Regions from separate parts of the Homo sapiens genome. Here region 2 is linked to region 1. The links come from fine-mapping of genetic effects on gene expression. A gene starts in region 1. The other region holds a variant in brackets. All regions are shown on one strand. Distances are from middle to middle. Region 1 holds the start of CATSPERD (catsper channel auxiliary subunit delta). Region 2 overlaps CATSPERD (catsper channel auxiliary subunit delta).

What was found. PIP is the estimated chance that this variant, and not a neighbour inherited with it, causes the effect.
Region 2: its variant is the best candidate, but not a certain one, in a credible set for the expression of CATSPERD in sun-exposed skin (GTEx, PIP 0.70).

Annotation. Positions count from the first base shown.
Region 1 is chr19:5,719,227-5,722,171 of GRCh38, forward strand. It overlaps CATSPERD (catsper channel auxiliary subunit delta), which reads left to right and starts at 1,411. Exons shown (of 22, transcript NM_152784.4): 1 at 1,411-1,582. The coding sequence starts at 1,512. It overlaps LONP1 (lon peptidase 1, mitochondrial), which reads right to left and starts at 920. Exons shown (of 18, transcript NM_004793.4): 1 at 478-920. The coding sequence starts at 906. RefSeq lists silencers at 530-609, 740-789 and enhancers at 601-1,117, 1,070-1,169.
Region 2 is chr19:5,741,284-5,743,783 of GRCh38, forward strand. All of the region lies in intron 7 of CATSPERD (catsper channel auxiliary subunit delta), which reads left to right. Among named protein-coding and RNA genes, the nearest start is that of CATSPERD, 22 kb to the left of the region's middle. The variant G/T (reference allele first, on the strand shown) is at 1,285.

The DNA.
Region 1 (2,945 bases):
TGCCATATCCCCAGAACCTAGAACACTCTCTGGCAAATAATAAGCAATCAAGAAGTATTTGTCTAAGAAAGGAATGAATTCTGATCCCAGTGAGGCTCGTAACCAGACGGCAGAGCGCCTGGGGCGAGGAGGTATTACAAAACTCGTGCCAAGTAAGGAGAAAACTAACAGCGCCGTAACACTACTCAGGTCCCTCCCGGCCCCGGATTTCTATGACCGGCGTTCTAAAGTGGATAATCCTAGGCTCATCGGGTTCAACTCCTCTCATCTAACGGATCCTAAGAAATCCGAAAGGGAGAGGACTTTGGCTCAAGGTTCCCAAGCTAGTGGTGAGCAGACAAGGATTCGAACTGCACCCTTCGAGAAACTTCATGTCTGAAAAAGTTGCGAAACACAAGGGCGCTCAAGTGATCCCACGGTTCAGCCCGCTGCTTGCACAGGTGGGAAACCTGAGGCCGAGGCGGGGACTCCCATTACCTCGATAATCTTGATAAAGCGCGGGAACACCGGGTTGCGGGTGATGGCGATGAGCGGCAGGTGCGGAAACACATCGGGGATCGTCATGGGCGTGAGCGCCGTTATGACCGGGCCTTCCCCGGCGCCCGCGCTGCCCCCCGCGCCGCCGGCTCCTTCCTCCGCGCCGCCCTCGGAGGCGTCCTCGCCCCCCGAGAATGCGCCTCCGCCGCGGCTGCTCGCTTCCCAAAACCCCCGCCATTGGCCCCCAATTGCCGGGCCTCGGCCCCACAGTGCCCAAGGAGGAGAGGCGTCGCAGGTCCGCTGGCCTCGGAGCAACCACGCTCCTGCTGCAGTGGGAACCCGCCCCCCGGCGGCGGCCAGCATCGGCCGCCGCAGCACCCAGCACCGCGCCGCTCCCCACAGTCGCACGTAGCCAGTGCTCGCCGCCATAGCCCGGCCATACTGGCGGCTCACACAACTCGCGTCATTTCCGCTCGCCGCGAAACGCACGTGACGCCCGGCGCGTGCCTCGGTACCCGATGGGCGCGTGGCTCGAAACAGCCGCTTCAGGGAGCTGGGCCTACGCGGAGAAGAGGGGGCGGAGTTCGAGCATCGGATCGTCTCCGCCTCTTCCGGTCTCCCACTTTATGCGCTGAAGGCCTTTTCCGGTCACGTGGAAGGCTGTGAGCAGGCGCCAGCGCCCGTACAAAACACTGGTAGTGTTGCAAACGCAACGTTTAGGAACTCATGAGCAGCCTGTGCACATGCTTAGGCGCGCGGACAACATGCGCATGCTCAGACTCTAGACTGGCCACGGGTGGCCGGGTGCGCATACTCAGGCTCTGAGCGCACTTTGGGGTGCGCGGATTCGGGCTTCCCGGGATTCGTCTGCGCATGCTCAAGATTCAGGCGGAGCGCCGGGCTGCAGTGCGCGGAGGCCCGCTCCCGGGACTCATTGATGCGCATGCGCAGGGCTTCAGCCTGCACGTACTCGGATTGTGCAGCGACTCCCCGTGGCGGTTGAGGGGCAGTGGTGGCGGCGGAAGCCCAAGTCGATGCTGATGTTGATGCTGGTGGCGGCTGTGACCATGTGGCTCCGACCGCTGGTCACAGCTCAGCTCTGTCGGTGGGGCTGCCAGGACTCCTGGGGCTGGGGTGCTGCCGGGGGTCGGGAGGGTGCTGGTTCATCTTGGAGCCGAGGCCTGCTCCCCAACCTCACTGAGGCTCCCCTTTTACTCTTTTTAGGAATCGAACTTGACGCCTCGCTCACCCTACTCCACCCCATCCTCCCAGCCCGATATTAAGCTCTCCTACCTCTTTTTTTTTTTTTTTTTGAGACGGAGTCTCGCTCTGTCGCCCAGGCTGCAGTGCAGTGGCGCGATCTCGGCTCACTGCAAGCTCCGCCTCCCGGATTCACGCCATTCTCCTGCCTCAGCCTCCTGAGTAGCTGGGACTACAGGCGCCTGCCACCACGCCCGGCTAATTTTTTTTTGTATTTTTAGTAAAGACGGGGGTTTCACCGTATTAGCCAGGATGGTCCCGATCTCCTGACCTCGTGACCCGCCTGCCTCGGCCTCCCAAAGTGCTGGGATTACAGGCGTGAGCCACCACGCCGGGCCTAGCCCTCCCACTTCTTTTTCTTTTTGGAGCCGGAGTTTTTGCTCTGTTTCCCAGGGTGGAGTGCAGTGGCGCGATCTCTGCTCACTGCAACCCCCGCCTCCCAAAGTGCTGGGATTGCAGGCGTGAGCCACCGCGCCCAGCCTTACCCAGCACATTTTGAAATTTCAGTAAATGTTAGGTTAGTGCATACTCCAACCTGCCATGGGGACCAGTTGCTGAAACTCCGTTCCTGCCCTCAGGGAACTCCCATCTGGACTAAACTGTCACATTCAGTAGGGACCTGTGAGCTGTATTCTTAGGGTGTATGGCCTCATTTGATGTTTACAGGAAGATTCATAATGATTCCTTAACCTTATTTTATTTTATTTATTATTATTTTTTGTACAGATGGGGTCTCACTGGCTGGGTGCAGTGGCTCACGCCTGTAATCCCAACACTTTGAGAGGTAGAGGTGGGCAGATCACTCACTTGAGGTCAAGAGTTCCAGACCAGCCTGGCCAACATGATGAAACCTCGTCTCTACTAAAAATACAAAAATTAGCCAGGCTTGGTGGCAGGTGCCTGTAATCCCAGCTACTTGGGAGGCTGAGGCAGAAAAATCGCTTGAATTCAGGAGGTGGAGGTTGCAGTGAGCTGAGATCGCACTCCAGCCTGGGTGACAAAGGGAGACTCTGTCTCAAAGGAAAAAAAAAAAAAAAGAGATGGGGTCTCACTGTTTTGCCCAGGCTGGTCTTGAACTCCTAGGCTCCAGTGATCCTCCTGCCTCAGCCTCCCAAAGTGTTGGGATTACAGGCATGAGCCACCCATGCCCAGCCATACCCTTATTTTATTTTTTTGAGATGGAGTCTTGTTCTCGTCGCCCAGGCTGG
Region 2 (2,500 bases), 22 kb after region 1:
CTTTGGCATTTTTGCTGCTGTAACAAAATATCTGAGACCGAGTAATTTATAAGGAACAGAAGTTTACTTGTCATGGTTCTGGAGGTTGGGAAGTCCAAGATCAAGACGCCAGCAAGGTTGTTTTCTGGTGAAGGCTGCAATCTGCTCCCAAGATGGTGCCTATGTTGGGGGGTCCTCTGGAGGGGCAAGAGCCACGTCCTCACACAGCAGAAGGCAGAAGAACCAACGAACAGTGCTCTCTTCAACGTAGAGCTCTTTTATAAGGATGCTCATCCCAAAGACCATACATTGATAGTACATTGGGGATTTCAGCATGAATTTTGGAGGGGAAACCATCATTCAAACCATAGCAGGAAACTGACTTGGAAGTAGGGCCTTTGCAGATGTAATCAGTTAAGCTAGAATGAGGTCACATTGAAATCAGGTGGCCTTCAAATCAAATGACCGCTGTCCAGGCGCGGTGCCTCAGCCTGTAATCCCAGCACTTTGGGATGCTGAAGGCGGGGGGGGGGGGGTGGTGTGGATCACTTGAGGTCAGGAGTTCAAGACCAGCCAAGCCAACTTGGTGAAACCCCGTCTCTACTGAAAAATGCAAAAATTAGCTGGGTGTGGCGGCTGGCGTGCCTGTAATCCCAGCTACTTGGGAGGCTGAGGCAGGCGAGTCACTTGAACTTGGGAGGTGGAGGAGGTTGCAGTAAGCCCAGATCGTGCCACTGCACTCCAGCCTGGGTGACAGAGTGAAACTCTGTCTCAAGGAAAAAAAAAAAGAACAAACAAAAAAAACAAAAAAGGAAACCTAGCATCACTAAAATTCCCAATTATTACTAAAATAGCGTTTGTGTGTGCGTGTGTGCGCGTGTGTACGTGTGTGAACGTGTGTGTGCGTGTGTGTATGTATGTGAACGTGTGTGCGTGTACATGTGTGCATGTGTGTACATGTGTGTGCGTGTGTGTACGTATGTGAATGTGTGTGGGTGTGCGTGTGCATGTGTGTACGTGTGTGTGCGTGTGTACGTATGTGAATGTGTGTGTGGGTGTGCGTGTGCATGTGTGTACATGTGTGTGTGTGCATGTATGTTTGTGCGTGTGGCAGTGGAATTGTTTTTATCACGGACATTTCAAGAGGAGAGGTTACCGCAGAGAATAGTTGAGCTCTCAGCACTGCTACAGCCAGGACAAGAGTCAGCCCCTATTGCTATCAATTGTATATATTGACGGCTGGGTACAGTGGCTCTCACCTGTAATCCCAGCACTTTGGGAGGCCGAGGAAGGAGGATCACTTGA[G/T]CTCAGGAGTTCAAGACCAGCCTGGGGAACATAGTGAGACCCACCCCCCACCATATCTACAAAAAATTGAAAAAGAAATGAGCTGGGAATGGTGGTAGGTACCTGTGGTCCCAGCTACTCAGGGGGCTGGAGGATTGCTTGAGCCTGGGAGACTGACGCTACAGTGGGGTGTGATCGTGCCACTGCACTCTAGCCTGGGGGACGGAGAGATATCCTGTTGCAAAAAAAGAAAAAGAAAAGAAACTGGTTGGAGTGATGGAGCAGGATCTAGAGTCCCTTCCAGGGGCAGATGGATCCCATAATTGCCTAATGGGATAGGTGGAGGGAGGGTCTTGAAGGCAGGTAGAATAATAGACCCCCAAAGGTGTCCACATCCTAATTCCTGGAACCTGTGAATATGGTTCCTGACATGGCAAAAGGAACTTTGCAGGTGGGATTAAATTAAGGATCTTGAGGCTGGGCTCGATGGCTCACGCCTGTAATCCCAGCACTTTGGGAGGACAAGGCAGGTGGATCACGAGGTCAAGAGTTCAAGACCAGCCTGGCCAAGATGGTGAAACCTCATCTCTACTAAAAATACAGAAAATTAGCCAGGTGTGGTGGCAGGCGCCTGTAATCCCAGCTACTCGGGAGGCTGAGGCAGGAGAATCGATTGAACCCAGGAGGCGGAGGTTGCAGTGAGCTGAGATCACACCATTGCACTCCAGCCTGGGCGACAAGAGTGTAACTCTGTCTCAAAAACAAACAAGGCCAGGCACTGTGGCTGATGGCTGTAATCCCAGCACTTTGGGAGGCCGAGGTGGGCGGATCACCTGAGGTCAGGAGTTTGAGACCAGCCTGGCCAACATGGCGAAACCCCGTTTCTACTAAAAAAACAGAAATTAGCCAAATATGGTGGCAGGTGCCTGTAGTCCCAGCTACTTGAGATGGGGAGGCAGGGAGGATTGCTTGAACCCAGGAGACAGAGGTTGCAGTGAGCCGAGGCTGTGCCACTGCACTCCAGCCTGGGCAACAGAGTGAGACTCCATCTCAAAAAAAGAAAAAAAGAAAAAAGATAGCAGTCTTAGTCTCTCTGTCTCTGTCTCTCTCTCTCTCTCTTCCTCTCTCTCTCTCTTCCTCTCTCTCTCTCTCTCTCTCTCTGTCTCTGTCTCTGTCTCTGTCTCTGCAAGATGTGGGAGGTAGCCAGCTGGGCTGCTATGGAAATCTGTCTCACTAT